2 separate regions of the Homo sapiens genome follow, and region 2 is linked to region 1. A link means that fine-mapping ties the variant in region 1 to the expression of a gene that starts in the linked region. Tissue or cell type: unexposed skin. Region 1 holds a variant in brackets; the other region holds the start of a gene. All regions are shown on one strand. Distances are between the middles of the regions.

Region 1 (8,262 bases):
GTCATTCCCAGATATGAGCATGATTCACTGAAACAGCACCATGTGAATTACAATTTGAACAACTGGAAACCTCTGGCCTGGCTAGACTGGTGAGGGCGTTCTAGACAGACAGAAAAGTGTGCCTGAAAGGTGGGAAACCAAGGATTGTTCAGAGGTGCCTATGGGTGCATGTGGTGAACAGATCAGACCTCGGAGAACTTTCCATGTCCAGTAAGAGATTCAGCTTTATGCTACTGGCAATGAGGGGCTATTGTGTGTTTGAACACAGACAGCAAGACAAGCAGGACTGGGCTTTCAGTGACAAGGACTGGAGGTCAGGAAGGCTCATTAGAAAGCTACTGCAAAAGCAGGAGGTAGAGAGAAGGCCAGAATTTGGGCATGGGCATTCAGCTTCAACAAGGGATCTTTCTTTCTTTCTTTCCTTTTTAATTTTTTATTTATTTATTTTTTTGAAACAGAGTCTTGCTCTGTTGCCCAGGCTGGAGTGCAGTGGCTCAATCTTGGCTCACGGCAACCTCTGCCTCCTGGGTTCACACCATTCTCCTGCCTCAGCCTCCCAAGTAGCTGGGACTACAGGCGCCCGCCACCACGCCCGGCTAATTTTTTTTGTATTTTTAGTAGAGATGGGGTTTCACTGTGTTAGCCAGGATGGTCTTGCCTTTTTTATTTTTTTTTAAAGAGACAAGGTCTCGCTCTACCACCCACGCTGGAGTGCACTGGTACAATTATAACACACGGCAGCCTGGGACTCCTGGGTGCAAGTGATCCTCCCACCTCAGCCTCCTGGGTAGCTGGGACTACAGGCGTGTGGTACCACGCCTGGCTAATTTTTAATTTTTTTGTAGAGATGAGGTCTCACTTTGTTGCCCTGGCTGTTCTCAAACTCCTGGCCCCAAGTGATCCTGCTGCCTCAGCCTCCCAAAGTGTTGAGATTACACGTGTGAGCCACTGTGCCTGCCTTCAACAGGGAATCTTTAAAGAGTAATATTCATGCCTCATTTATGGAACAAATATTGTTCTCAGTTCTCAGATACCGGTGTCCAAGACAGACACAGCCACTAGGAGGCAACATTGTTCTTCCCTAGAGATGGGACACCACACAGTCCCCAGGTAAACGATACCCCCTGCAGCCTGGTGGATAGTTCAAGAAAGCTGTTTTGGGGAATGAAAAAGGACACCCCACCTTCCACCTCATCCTACCACACTCCCTATTCCACCGTTCACGCCTGCCCTGGCCTGGTGAATGCCAAAGCAATGCTGTAAGAGAGACCCAGGGCTTTAGCCCTCAATTCAGCCACATTCATGAGTCATGAGTCATGAGGAACATGAGTCATGAGGAACAGTCATGAGGAACACATTCATGAGTCATGAGGAACAGACGCAGAGCCTCAATGGGGCCCCAAGTCAGCAAGGGATGCACCTGCCCCAGCACTTCTGGAAGCTCTGGCACTGTGTTCAGTGCCCTCATACCCTGGTCACCAAGCCCCAGGAGATGGTTTTCTACCCAATTACCAACTGAGACAAACGTGGCAGGACACTACAGCGCTGGGAGCCACAGACCCTGGCCACCAGCCCAGAAGCAGACTCACAGCTCTGACATTTTCAACAGGTAGATAGGAGCAGCGAACAGATTCAAACTCCCTCTCATCCTCATCTCTCACCAGCTGGACAACACTGCTGTGCAGGGACAGCGTCTCAGACACAGACGGTGCTTCTTGAATCATTTGTCTTTCTGGGGCCTTCCAAGTTGGGTTATTTTGTCCTATCCTTTCTAGCGACTGCATACTGATACTTTCTTTCCCCTTTTTCTCTTGCTTCCTGCCAACTTAACTTTATCCAGGATGGTCTTTGCATTTGTTGTGCCCACAACTCTCCAACCGCTATTCTTTTGTAGATTTTATCTGACAGATTTCATTTTACCTTCTGCACAGGCATCTGACCATCCCCTGACGTCTGATGTCTTCTCCCCTCCCAGGCCTGAGTGCCTGATCATTCCCTCAAGAATCTTGCAGAAAGGCCATCTTCCCTGGCTACTCCCAAATGGAGTTCAAAGCTCCCCTTTTCTGCTACCTTGGTACTCAACAGAACTCATCATGTGGGCATGAGTCTGTCCCTCTTCTTAGATAAGGAGTTTCCAGACGCTGTGGCCAGGTGTTCTCTCTTTATCATCCCAGTGTGCGACATGGGGCCTGGTTCATCATACGTATCAACACAGTTGGCTAAATGGATGGATGCACAAGGTAGACTGAATGAAGGACCATTTCACTAACTTCATTTGTCTCTCCTAGAGCAGCTGCCACCACCATCTGTTACAAAACCTTCAAACTGAAATGTTACTTCAATTCCTTTCCAACACTTTCTGCCTACCCAAGCCAGGGGATGCCTCCTTCACAGAGCTGGTCATCTGTGGGTAGCAGAAGACAAGTGAATGCACCATGTCCCTCAGACCTTTGAAGATATAGCTTGGGAGTCTTGCTGGGGTAAAGTGGTCCTGGCTCCATTCCCTGGCTGCTTCATGTTCCCAAGGGTCATACAAAGACCCAGAGTCTGAGACTGCAGAAAACCCCAAGACGGCCCTATCTCCTTCTCCTTGGCTGTCACTCAGATTCCCACCCAAACCTCCTCCAACTCCATGACTCTAAACACAGGATAGACTGAAGCATTCCCTTCTAGTTCTACTGGTAAATATAACTGTCAGAAGATTTTTCCAAAAGCAGGCAGTGAGAGAAAAATCATAAAGGCAGCAAAGTCCTCGTTAGGGAATAGAAAAGTTGGATTTGCCACCAAATGAACCGAGATGCCCCTACAGTCACCCCAGAAAATACACCCTGAGTGTATCGAGATAGTCATCTGAGCACTCGCAGATGTCTCCTTCCCGCTTCCAGATCCCTAAAGTGACAGGGCAGGGGTTAAAACACAAAGATCACAGGGTTGAGAACCAAGGAGAGGACCATCACTGGGCTCCTTTTCTAAAATCCCTATGCTAGATATATAACATTTATTTAATAAGAAAAACAGAAACAATGAAAACAATCTGGCCAGGTGTGGTGGCTCACGCCTGTAATCCCAGCATTTTGGGAGGCCGAGGTGGGCAGATCACTGAGGTCAGGAGTTCAAGACCAGCCTGGCCAACATGGTGAAACCCCGTCTCTACTAACAATACAACCATTAGCCGAGGCTGGTGGTGGGTGCCTATAATCTCAGCTACTCGCAAGGCTGAGGCAGGAGAATCGCTTAAACCTGGGAGGTGGAGGTTGCAGTGAGCCAGGATTGCACCACTGCACTCCAGCCTGGGCAACACAGTGAAACTCTGTCTCAAAAGAAATAAAAATAAAAATAAAAAACAACTAATGGAAAAAAGGAAAAGAAATAAAGGCCCAGGCAATAAAGACTCAAGCTGGTGGCTCACCCTTGTAATACCACAGGGCA[T/C]ATGCAAAGTCAGGTATTGCTTTGCAGTGATGTAAGAGGTCAGAATCACAGGAGTCTGGCAACTGCAGTGTCAGATACATCATACCACAGCCCCATGAGGAGATATTCTGAAACACTGATTGTTTTAGGAATTGTTAATAACTTGAGAATGTGTACATGATACTATGTGTAGGGGGTTGAACTGTGTCCCTCAAAAGTTATGTCCATGTTCTAACCCCTGGTGCCTGTGAATATGACTTTATTTGGAAAACGGGGTCTCTGCAGATGTAATTGAGTTAAGGAACTTTAGATGAGATCATCTTGCATTTAGACTTGACCCTAAGTCAAATGACTGGTGTCCTTTTAAAAGTAAATAGAGGGGCCGGGTGTGGTGGCTCATGCCTGTAATCCCAGCACTTTGGGAGGCCGAGGCGGGTGGATCACAAAGTCAGGAGATTGAGACCATCCTGGCTAACATGGTGAAACCCTGTCTCTACTAAAAATACAAAAAAATTAGCTGGGTGTGGTGGTGGGTGCCTGTAGTCCTAGCTACTCGGGAGGCTGAGGCAGGAGAATGGCATGAACCAGGGAGGCGGAGCTTGCAGTGAGCCGAGATCATGCCACTGCACTCCAGCCTGGATGACAGAGCAAGACTCCGTCTCAAAAAAAAAAAAAAAAAAAAAAAAAAAAAAAAAAAAAGTAAATATGGGGGCCAGTCATGGTGGCTAACGCCTGTAATCCAGCACTTTGGGGGCCAAGGTGGGTGGGTCACTCGAGGTTAGGAGTTGGAGACCAGCCTGACTAACACGGTGAAACCCTGTCTCTACTAAAAATACAAAAATTAGCTGCATGTGGCAGTATGCATCTGTAGTCTCAGCTATTCAGGAGGCTGAGGAGAGAGAATCACTTGAAGCTGGGAGGCGGAGGTTGCAGTGAGCCAAAACCACGCCACTGTACTCCAGCCTGGGTGACAAAGCAAGATTCCATCTCAATCAATCAATAAAATAAAATAAAATAAAATAAAGTAGAGGGAAATTTGGGACACAGAGACAAGAAATCTTGGGACTCCGGGGAGAATGCCAGGTGAAGACGGAAGCAGAGATTGCAGGGATGCGTCTACAAGCCAAGAAATGCCAAGGATTGCTGGAAGCTGCCAGAACCTAGGAGAAAGGTATGCAGTGAATTTTCCCTCAGGGTCCGCAGAAGGAACAAACCCTGCTGATGCCTTGATTTGGACTTCTCTTCTGAACTGTACGAGAATAACTGTCTGTTTTTTTAAGCCACCAAATCTGTAGTAATTTATGCAGCCTGAGGAAACCAATATACAATATACTATGATATGTAGAAGCAGCTTATATAGCTCTTTACAGGATAATCTCAATTATATGGTATGAAAAGGATGGACAATGGGTGTATATTACTCCTATAAAGAGAGAAAAGGTTATGAGAAACATACAAAAAGTTTGCCATCTCTTATCACTGATGGATTATCTAAAAGCAAAGCCTTGCTGCCATGTAGCAGTTCTTACTTTCATCGGACATTTGATATTCAAAATAATCCAGGGAGGTAAGTGCACAGGGTGACATTATTCTGATTTTATGGGTGACAACTTGAGTTGGAGTGTGATCAGGAGGCTGAGCAGTGACTGAGTCTGAATAAGAATTTAGGTCTTGGTGCTTCTCACCAGCACCCATTCATTTGGCTATTTACCTGGTGTTATGGGCTGAATTTTGTTCTCTCCTAAATTCCTGTGTTGAAGTCCTAACCTCCAACACTTTTTTTTTTCTTTTTTTTATTGATCATTCTTGGGTGTTTCTCGCAGAGGGAGATTTAGCAGGGTCACAGGACAATAGTGGAGGGAAGGTCAGCAGATAAACAAGTGAACAAAGGTCTCTGGTTTTCCTAGGCAGAGGACCCTGCAGCCTTCCGCAGTGTTTGTGTCCCTGGGTACTTGAGATTAGGGAGTGGCGATGACTCTTAACCAGCATGCTGCCTTCAAGCATCTGTTTAACAAAGCACATCTTGCACCACCCTTAATCCATTCAACCCTGAGTGGACACAGCACATGTTTCAGAGAGCACAGGGTTGGGGGTAAGGTCACAGATTAACAGGATCCCAAGGCAGAAGAATTTTTCTTAGTACAGAACAAAATGAAAAGTCTCCCATGTCTACCTCTTTCTACACAGACACGGCAACCATCCGATTTCTCAATCTTTTCCCCACTTTTCCCCCCTTTCTATTCCACAAAACCGCCATTGTCATCATGGCCTGTTCTCAATGAGCTGTTGAGTACACCTCCCAGACGGGGTGGTGGCCGGGCAGAGAGGCTCCTCACTTCCCAGTAGGGGCGGCCGGGCAGAGGCGCCCCTCACCTCCCGGATGGGGTGGCTGGCTGGGCGGGGGGCTGACCCCCCCACCTCCCTCCCAGACGGGGCGGCTGGCCGGGCAGAGGGGCTCCTCACTTCCCAGTAGGGGTGGCCGGGCAGAGGCACCCCTCACCTCCCGGATGGGGCAGCTGGCCGGGCGGGGGGCTGACCCCCCCCCACTTCCCTCCCGGACGGGGCGGCTGGCGGGTGGGGGGCTGACCCCCCCACCTCCCTCCCGGACGGGGCAGCTGGCCGGGCGGGGGGCTGACCCCCCCACCTCCCTCCCAGATGGGGCAGCTGGCCGGGCGGGGGGCTGACCCCCCAACCTCCCTCCCGGACGGGGCGGCTGGCCGGGCAGAGGGGCTCCTCTCTTCCCAGTAGAGGCGGCCGGGCAGAGGCGCCCCTCACCTCCCGGACGGGGCGGCTGGCAGGGCGGGGGGCTGACCCCCCCACCTCCTTCCGGGACGGGGCGGCTGGCCGGGCAGAGGGGCTCCTCACTTCCCAGTAGGGGCGGCCGGGTAGAGGCGCCCCTCACCTCCCGGACGGGGCGGCTGGCCGGGCGGGGGGCTGACCCCCCCACCTCCCTCCCGGACGGGCGGCTGGCCGGGCGGGGGGCTGACCCCCCCACCTCCCTCCCGGACGGGGCGGCTGGCCGGGCGGGGGGCTGACCCCCACCTCCCTCCCGGACGGGGTGGCTGCCGGGCGGAGACGCTCCTCACTTCCCAGACGGGGTGGCTGCCGGGCGGAGGGGCTCCTCACTTCTCAGACGGTGTGGCTGCCGGGCGGAGGGGCTTCTCACTTCTCAGACGGGGCAGTTGCCAGGCAGAGGGTCTCCTCACTTCTCAGACGGGGCGGCCGGGCAGAGACGCTCCTCACATCCCAGACGGGGCGGCAGGGCAGAGGCGCTCCCCACATCTCAGACGATGGGCGGCCAGGCAGAGACGCTCCTCACTTCCTAGATGGGATGGCGGCCGGGCAGAGACACTCCTCACTTTCCAGACTGGGCAGCCAGGCAGAGAGGCTCCTCACATCCCAGATGATGGGCGGCCAGGCAGAGACACTCCTCACTTCCCAGACGGGGTGGCGGCCGGGCAGAGGCTGCAATCTCGGCACTTTGGGGGGCCAAGGCAGGCAGCTGGGAGGTGGAGGTTGTAGCGAGCCGAGATCACGCCACTGCACTCCAGCCTGGGCACCATTGAGCACTGAGTGAACGCAACTCTGTCTGCCATCCCGGCACCTCGGGAGGCCGAGGCTGGCGGATCACTCGCGGTTAGGAGCTGGAGACCAGCCCAGCCAACACAGCGAAACCCCGTCTCCACCAAAAAAATACGAAAACCAGTCAGGCGTGGTGGCGCGCGCCTGCAATCGCAGGCACTTGGCAGGCTGAGGCAGGAGAATCAGGCAGGGAGGTTGCAGTGAGCCGAGATGGCAGCAGTACAGTCCAGCTTCGGCTCGGCATCAGAGGGAGACCGTGGCAAGAGAGGGAGGGGGAGGGGGAGGGGGAGGGGGAGAGGGAGAGGGAGAGGGAGCCTCCAACACTTTAGAATGCGACTGCATTTGGAGGCAAGGTCTTTCGAGAAGTGATTAAGCTAAAATGAGGTTTTTGTTTTGTTTTGTTTGTAGGGTGGGCTCTAATCTAATGTGAAGACATAGCAAGGAGATGCCATCTACAAGCCAAAAAAAAGGGGTGCTGGGAGAAACCAGACCTGCTGACACCTTGTGCTTGGACTTCCGGCCTCCAGAACAGTGAGCAGATGCATTTCCGTTATTTAAGCCACCCAGTCTGTGGTATTTTGTTAGCAGCCACAGCCAACTAATACACTTAGGAAGGCTGGAACACACAGTCTCCATACCTGTTTCTCTTTTTCCTGTGGCATTCTCCCTGGGCTCAAACAGGAAGTGGGAAAATACATAATTTCCAGGTACAGGATCCTCCTGCCCAATGAGGTTATTTCTGAGCTAACAACAGCCAAGACTTTTGGCAAGTCTATTTTTGGAAGAAGGTCCGCCCTGAACCGTGGAGAAAGAGAGTGGTCAAAGCCACATTCACCTGATGTGCCAGCTTCTTCTGGTTTCTCATTCAAGGCCACCACGGGAAAGAGGTAGAGGACGCCAGGCCTTGGGTTTCCTTTCTGGCCAGGGAGTTCTTTGTGACTTTTAAGCAGGGGAAGCAAGGCTGCCGGAGACAGCGCGTTGTGCCTGGGGAACAGGTTCACAGGCTCACAGACAGAATTGGGTTCAGATGCTGGTTCTGATCACTCCTAGGTGACCCCAGGCAAAATGCTTTCCCAGACTGAGACTCAATGTCCTCATCTGTAAAGTGAAGTTAACCCCACCCGCCTCACTGGTGAATATGCATCTGCAATGTTAAGCACTTAGCATAGTGCCTACCACATAGTACGTGTTTAATCAATGTTTGTTATGTATATTAATGAAAAGGTTCACCAATTTGGCTCCTTTTTCAAATGTACCTAAATCCCATTGGGG
Region 2 (8,000 bases), 620 kb after region 1:
AAAGACCTGGTACCAGGGACTTCCTTAGCAAATAGCCAAACAGGTTTGTTGGGAAGGAAAAATAATCTTTCTTCCCTACCCATCTTAGATTCCTTGGCTGTGGCCCTGTAAATTAGAATGACAAAAAAAAGAAAAAACAGATTAACAAGAGAAAAACAAACAAAAGTTTTTTATTAACTTGTGCATGGTGCTTACATGTTGAAATACCTAGTGAGGAGTAACTCAAAGAGATGGTTAGAATTTGGGTTCATATTGCATTTTTAAAAAGAACAATAAATTTGCAGAGAAGTGGCAAGACAAACAAAAAGGACTTTGAGCTTCTAGGGGTAGCAAATTATGGGAAGATAAATAAATGGGGGTCCTAATGGGAGATAAGACTAGTTAGTAAGTTTTGGTATGTAGATTCCTCTGGGCTGATAAGGGTCTAGGGTTGTCTCCAATGATTAACTTCTGTCCGTCCTGGTAGAGAGGGGAGGTGGAGACACTATACTTTTATAAATTCAAGTCTGCTTTTAGGAAAATGGGGGGAGAACAGAGACCTATTCTTGTATCTACTTCTTCTTAACTGCTTTCAGCTCAAAATAATCCTTATGCCAAAGGGGCATATTTGGGGGTGGTATAGACTGCTATCCTTCAGGTTCATCACTTAGAGCCCCATTCTGTCAGGGGGATGCAATTCATGTAGGGATGAGGCTGCTTGGTATTGACTCAGAGAGGTGTGTGTGGTGGGGGCTGGGAGGTGGGGAGAGGGAAGATGAAAAGAAACCCCACGTGTCATGGGAAGGACCAGGTGGAGATAGTTGAATCATGGGGACAGTTACCCCCATAAAAGTTTTCATTTTGTTCTCTAGATGTTGGTGGGCCCTGGTGGTTTAGGAGTAAGGTGTGCTGAGCTCGAAGCAAAGTCTTGGGAAGAGAAGTCACCCTGGACTATTGATGAAGGCCTGGAGTAAAGATTAAGAAATGGAAGTGGAAGGGAAAAGATAAGGGGAGAAACCTGAGGAAGGTAGAATCTGTAAAGCTCAGGTGCCGTCAGCTGGAGTTGAAACAGACTCCTGAGAGGCTCTTATGCCTACAGTTATTTGGGAACTAAGTCATCTTCTTCCCACTCCCATCACCAAAGGACCAGGACTGGTTGGCCAGCAACAAGGTGAACCTCCCTTCTTCGAACCTCTGCCCTCTACCTCTTAGGTATATGCTGCCCTCTGGTATTCTGCTCCTGTTTAAGGCTACTCTTGGTGCTTATTTTAACTGATTTCATCTCGATATGGAAGTTGAGTGTAGGAACAAGACTCATACCATGAGATGTTCTTGGGGGCAGTCTCAGGTCAGATAATAGAGATAATGATTAATATTTAGTGTGCACTTAATATGTGGTAGGCTCTGTGCTATGGGCCTTACATGCGTAATCTTATTAAATTCTTCCAGTGATCTACAAAGTAGGTTTGATTATTATTTCCATTTTATAGATGAGAAGACTGAGATTCAGAGAGTTAACTTGCTTAAGGTCACACAGCCAGAAAGTGGTGAATCAACAAAATTAGAACACAGGCCTGCTGAGTTCTTGCTTCCAGTCACTTCACTGCAATAGGCCCCCAGAAGCAGGGCTGGAGTTCAGAAATTCTTTCTAGTAGAGCACCTGTGTCAGGGCTCCTGACCTTCTGATCTGTCCTGAGCTTTACAGATTCTACCTTCCTCAGGTTTCTCCCCTTATCTTTTCCCTTCCACTTCCATTTCTTAATCCTTACTCCAGGCCTTCATCAATAGTCCAGGGTGACTTCTCTTCCCGAGACTTTGCTTTGAGCTCAGCACACCCTACTTGTAAACCACCAGGGCCCGCCAACATCTAGAGAACAAAATTAAAACTTTTATGGGGGTAACTGTCCCCATGATTCAATTATCTCCACCTGGTCCCTCCCATGACACGTGGGGTTTATGGGAACCACAATTCAAGATGAGGTTTGGGTGGGGACACAGCGAAGCCATATCAAATGGTGAAATACAATTCTGCATATGTAGCATCCTAAGAAGCTCTATAGCCTAGTGGCTAAGACTATAGCCTGTGGGCCTAAGCTGCCCGGGTTCAAACCCTGGCTCTGCCCCTCACTAACTGTGTGGCCTTGGATGAGTTATTGTAATCCTCAATGGTTCCGTTTCTCTAATTGTAAAATACAGAGGCTAGGTTTATTGTGAGGAATAATTGAGTTAATACATGTAAGGTACATGACACCTGGCACGGAGGAGTTTATTTTAAAAAGTCACCTATTATGAAACATCCTTCTTCCTCATTTCGAGATGTCACTTGCTATCTTGTACCTAAACTGAGCCCTTTTGGTGGAGGCAGTGAGGGTTCTTGTGTGTTCTTCGCCATCCCTGCCTGGCGTGTGCGCAGGAGCTATTTATGTTGCTGAATTCACCATCGTGGGGATCACAGGAAGAGGAAAACTTTTTCCAGTAGCTCAGGAGCTGCTTATGTCGCTGAATTCACCATGACGGGGATCATAGGAAGAGGAAAACTTTTTCCAGTAGCCTGTAGTTGCAAAAGATAATAAGCTTTCCAACCTGTGATCACCTGGAGCAAACGGAGAGGAAAGGAGATAAACGAGGAGTGTTGCGTGCGGAGTGGAGGGAGGCTCCCTTTCTCCTCCCATCACCAACTCCTCCTTCTCCTCAGGCCAGGCTTTTAATCAGGCTCCCCGCGTGCAGTCAGAGAGGGCAAAGCCAGCTCCCGTCTCAGCCTCCCGTAGGAAGATCTCCCGGCCTCACCTGAGCGCCCCGCAGCCCTGGGTACCTCTGCTCCCGCCCAGGGTCCTATGGCCCCTCCTCCCAGCACCCAACACTGGGACCCCACCTGTACCCAGGCTGGCCTCCCTCCCCCGCAGCTTCCTTTGCAGCCGCCGTCCGCGGGTCTCCAGGCGTGGCCACACCTCCCGGGGCCCCGCAAGGGTTAAGGCAGCAGAGAGGAGAGGTTTGGGCTGACGTCGCTCTGGCTGAAGGTGGTTCCCCTCAGATGAGGATGGGAGAGCCTGGCGAGCTGAAACCCGAGCTCCCGCTCAGCTGGGGCTCGGGGAGGTCCCTGTAAAACCCGCCTGCCCCCGGCCTCCCTGGGTCCCTCCTCTCCCTCCCCAGTAGACGCTCGGGCACCAGCCGCGGCAAGGATGGAGCTGGGTTGCTGGACGCAGTTGGGGCTCACTTTTCTTCAGCTCCTTCTCATCTCGTCCTTGCCAAGAGGTACTGTGAGTAGCGTCCGGGACACCCTAGGAGGACACCCTAGGAGGGAGCATTTTCCTCCTGGGGTCTGCCTGGGAGCAGGACTGGGAGTCTCAGGAGGTGGGCTGTGTGTGTTTGGGGTGAGGGGTTGAGGGGGGGTGGTGCTTTTCCAGTGATAATTTTAGGGACTTGGCTGGTGGTGCTGGAGCTCCTGTGGCCCTCCCTGAGACTGTGACGTGGTTTTGTCATCCCAAATCGTGGGGCTGTACTGTCTCAGGAAAGCGGACCAGCTCCTATTTTATTTGCTCTTTTTATCATTTTAAAAGTACCAAATTGCCTTAGGGAATCAATTCTGAGTTACCCGCTCTGACTTGCAAAAGCGAAGTTTCTCTTGGAAAGGGCTCCCTCAGAGGTGAGCAAGAAAGAAAGAAGAGAGGGAAAGAAAGAAAGGAATAAAGAGCAGGGCTTGCTTGGTGTTCTTCTGGTGAATCTTGCTTCACGAACTCCTACAGCCATACCCCTTCGGAGTAGATCCAAGCACAGGAGATTGACTCACTCAGCATATATAGACACACTTCCTTTCTGATGAGAGTGAGAAAGAAGAAAAAGCCAAGGTTAAAAGTGCAGATTGTTTCTGGGATGCATAGGGTTTGTTTTGAAAGAGCTCTGGCTTCTTTGGTTTTCATATATCATTTTCTAAGCCACAATCCCCAGGTCAAATGGGCTTCTGGGGACAAATGAGGCTGGGACATGATACGGAGATCCAGCTAAGGGCAGAAGCGAGGACATGGCAGATCCTGCTTGCTGGCAGGCGGGGAAGTGGGAACGTCATAGGAACATCTGTCCTTCTATGGCCCAGGGGGTAAAGTGAGACCTCATGAGATGAGGGCAGGCCGAGATGTACAGAAATGACCAAACGGGGCAGCTCTGAATAGGGGCAGGTTATGTACGAGCCTTCGCTGCTTCCCTTCTGTGCTGGTTACCTGTCACCTGAACTCTATCTGAGAGCTGGGTGCTCTGCCGCTGCAAGTAGCTGGCAAGTGCCTGAGAATGAAACAGGCCAGGTCGGGTGGGGAGGATACTAAATGCAATAACCTGTGTAGAAGGGAAACTTAGCCATAGGCACATCCCTTCATGATCAACGAAAAGCTGAGATACACAAACCCCCCTGCCCTTCATTTTGGTCAATACTTTCCATCTACCTAGAGCCTGCCTGCCCAGGTAGGATCTTCCTTAATGATTTACAATAAAGATGGTGAGTGTTTCATTTGAATTTTGCCTCCATGGTGTCTGGAGCAGCCCAAAGACAATAATAAAGGAAGAAGGAGCCCTTCATAAGGGCTGACAATCCATAAACCTAAACACTTGCCTAGGGGTAAGTGGGTGACTTTGCATTAAGGCACCTCCCTACTTCATCTTCGCCTTTGCATGGTGTCGGTGGACCAGCTCCAGAGGACCTGGTTCTTCTCAGAGTGCCAGGGCTCAGTGGATTTGATTCCTCAGGGTTACATCAGCGTTCCCCTGCTTCCTGTTTTATTACATGGCAGGTGAGGCGCTTCAAAGCCATAAAAGTTTAAAAGAAAATAAAAAAACCTGAGCTGGCTCTTTTTCCTAGCCCAGAATCTGAAAAATCCATTTATTTCTGACCCGAGAACCTCTTTTACCTTTGGCTGTGAAAAAGCTTCAGAGAGGATACGCAGTTTGTTGGTAGCTAAACTGCTGCCTGAACCAGAGCGCAGCTTCATGTGTTTAGCAAGGATATTTTAGTTGTTGAATGTTTTACTCACATTTCGAGGGAAGACGGAGGAATAGCGTGGAGAAGGAAAATATTTCCTCAAGGAGTGAAGGAAGTCCACTCCCTGCTGGGATGCTGAATCTGGCCCCAGGCAAGAAAAGCTTGGAAGCGTATTTCCTCTAATTAACTTTTCTAAAAAGAGTATTTGCTGAATTGTAAACATCCACTGGGATGGTACCAGAGAGTGTTGTTTCTCACTGGCATGTGACACATGTTGGGAGGATGAGAATCCAAACATGAGGCCAAGCGATAACCCAACATAAACAGAATGAGGGGAGAAACCCAACTCCACTGACTTCACCAAATTGCGGTAGCTCTGCCAGTGTGATTCTGCCGAAGAGGAAAACCTCATTTAAAATATGGGACTCTTGGGAATGAAAACTTAATCTGGAGAACTTCACAAGTGTTGCTTCCAACAGACATTAACTTGTGGGGAATGAACATAAATGCAACCAGGGAAGATAATTTGAAGTGCAGATATTCAGTGGGCAGGAAAAGCCAGCCGAGAAAGGAAACATGGAAAGAAAGCAAGGGAGAAGGAGTGGCAAGAAAAATGAGATGTGAGATTACACTGGGATATGTTGGCAAATTCCTAGGAGAAAGCTAGGAAAATTGGGCCTTCTTGGCACGGGTGGATTTTTGCGGGGATCATGAAGAGGGTGTTCCCCTAATATACAATCTGAGAGCTCCTGGCATCCCCAACAGGAAAATAATTTAATGATGGGATCATGGAGTTTAGGAGCTGAGAGTGACTTTAGAAATTATTTTAGTATGAGTCCCTCAATTCAGAGGATGAAGAGATTAAACATCAAGCAAACATTTAGTGAACATTTATTAATGTGTCCAGTCTTTGAGCCAAAGGCTTCATATGCATTAATTCTCAGACCACCCTGAAATGGCATTGCTGTTATTATCCGTGTTTTACAGATGAGGTTCAGAGAGGTTCTATGATACACAGAGGTTTAAGGATATACAAGTATGGTTCCCCCAAAAATTGAACATAGAATTACCATTTGATTTAGCAATTCAATTTCTGGGTGTATACACAAAAGAATTGAAAGCAGGGACTTGATTAGATATGTTTACATCAATGTTCATAGCAGCATTATTCCCAATAGCCAAAAGGTGGAAACAACCCGAATGTCCATTGATAAACAAGATACAGTATACACCTACGACGGAATATTATTCAGCCTTAAAAATAAAGGATATTCTGATACGTGCTATAACACAGATGAACCTTAAGACCTTATGCTAAGTGAAAGAAGCCAGACACAAAAAGACAAATGTTCTGTGATGCCACTTATATGAGGTACTTAGAATAGTCAAATTCATGTAGACAGAAAGTAGGGTGGTAATTGCCAGGGCCCAGGAGAAGATGGAATGGGAGTTATTATTTGATGGGTACAGAGTTTCAATGTGGAATAGCAAAAAGTTCTGGAGATAGATGGTGGTGATGGTTGCACAATAGTATGAATGTACTTATGCCACTGAACCATGCACTTAAAAACGATTTGAGGCAGGCGCAGTGGCTCATGCCTATAATCCCAGCACTTTGGGAGGCCAGGGCGGGCAGATCACGAGGTCAGGAGATCGAGGCCATCCTGGCTAACACAGTGAAACCCTGTCTCTACTAAAAATACAAAAAATTAGCTGGGCGTGGTGGCAGGCGCCTGTAGTCCCAGCTACTCGGGAGGCTGAGGCAGGAGAATGGTGTGAACCTGGGAGGTGGAGCTTGCAGGGAGCCAAGATCGCGCCACTGCACTCCAGCTTGGGCGACAGAGTGAGACTCTGTCTCCAAAACAAAACAAAACAAAAAAAAACCAAACAAAAAACGATTTGAAAGGTAATTTTTTGTTATGTATATATTTTCCACAATAAATAAATAAACAACTACACTGGCAGAGTAGTGGAGCCCAGGGTGAGCTCAGGCTGTCTAGTTTCTGAACCCAAGTTCCTCCGTTACCTGGAGGACATATATTCACACATCCAGCACATGGACTGATTATGCTGATGGACATCTAACTTTGTTAGGGTTTCAGGATGCACATGAAGCAGGGGAAAGAGAGCCCTTGCTAGCTCCTGTTTTACTGGCATTGTTGCTGCTTCTTGGCTGGTTGTGGCAAAGAGGGAGACTGTGCTGATAGACCAGAAACTGGCAGCCTTTGGAGCCAAAAGGCCTGCAGAATTTATTTAGTAGGACACAAGTGCTTCAGAGTGTTTTGAACCTGAATGTCTTGAGGTAGGCTGGATCCTCTCTAGGGTCTGACACTCCACCTCTCAACCCATATGTTTAATACCTGCTAATCCTTACTAGCATTTGAAGTTTTGACCTCCATTTCTGAGAGGGATGGGACAGGAAGGGGGAATGAGAGGGAGAAGGTGGAAGGCTGGATGGTGAATGGAGGGAAACAAGGGAGTTCAGCTGCTGAGGACTAATTGGCCAACAGGATTTTTCAGAGCATCTGGTACATCAGACTTTTATCAGTGTCTAACATATTTTAATCTGTATATTTCATGGAGCATAATCTTACCTCTCTCTGTGACCTCCAACTCTTTAGTAAAATGTTTTACTTTCATGAATGCCCTTGAGCATAAGCTTTCAGTGGAAACTGAAGACAGGGCTGGGTGTTATATCTGGGTCAATAACCTGTGAACAAAGCACCTTAGACATGGGAGCCCAGAAGCAGAGGTGACCTAGAGCGCGTAAGTCCCTCAGGAATATGCAGAAGTCTTGGGGAGGGCTTTAGAATGCCATTGGCATGGACAATGGATTTGACTTAATCTTATCCACATCTGGGTTATACTGGCTAGACAGAAATGGCCAACATAATGGTGCCTGGGACCTAATGACAGGTCTTAGATCTGAAAATTATTTCCATCTGCCCCACTGGGGTGGCCAATCCTGATGCAAAAGAAAACTTCTCTACCTGCCTCCCCTGAGACCAGCTCTAGAAGCTGCAGTTGATTTGGGGTGTAAGCAAATGGGGAAAAG

Evidence for each region. PIP is the estimated chance that this variant, and not a neighbour inherited with it, causes the effect.
Region 2: it holds the start of PAMR1, and the variant in region 1 is fine-mapped to the expression of PAMR1 in unexposed skin (GTEx, PIP 0.96).

Annotation. Positions count from the first base shown.
Region 1 is chr11:36,142,944-36,151,205 of GRCh38, reverse strand. All of the region lies in intron 4 of LDLRAD3 (low density lipoprotein receptor class A domain containing 3), which reads right to left. Among named protein-coding and RNA genes, the nearest start is that of MIR3973, 140 kb to the right of the region's middle. RefSeq lists enhancers at 1,157-1,336, 1,216-1,789, 729-1,928, 6,944-7,551. The variant T/C (reference allele first, on the strand shown) is at 3,430.
Region 2 is chr11:35,520,744-35,528,743 of GRCh38, reverse strand. It overlaps PAMR1 (peptidase domain containing associated with muscle regeneration 1), which reads left to right and starts at 3,128. Exons shown (of 11, transcript NM_001001991.3): 1 at 3,128-3,231. The coding sequence starts at 3,159.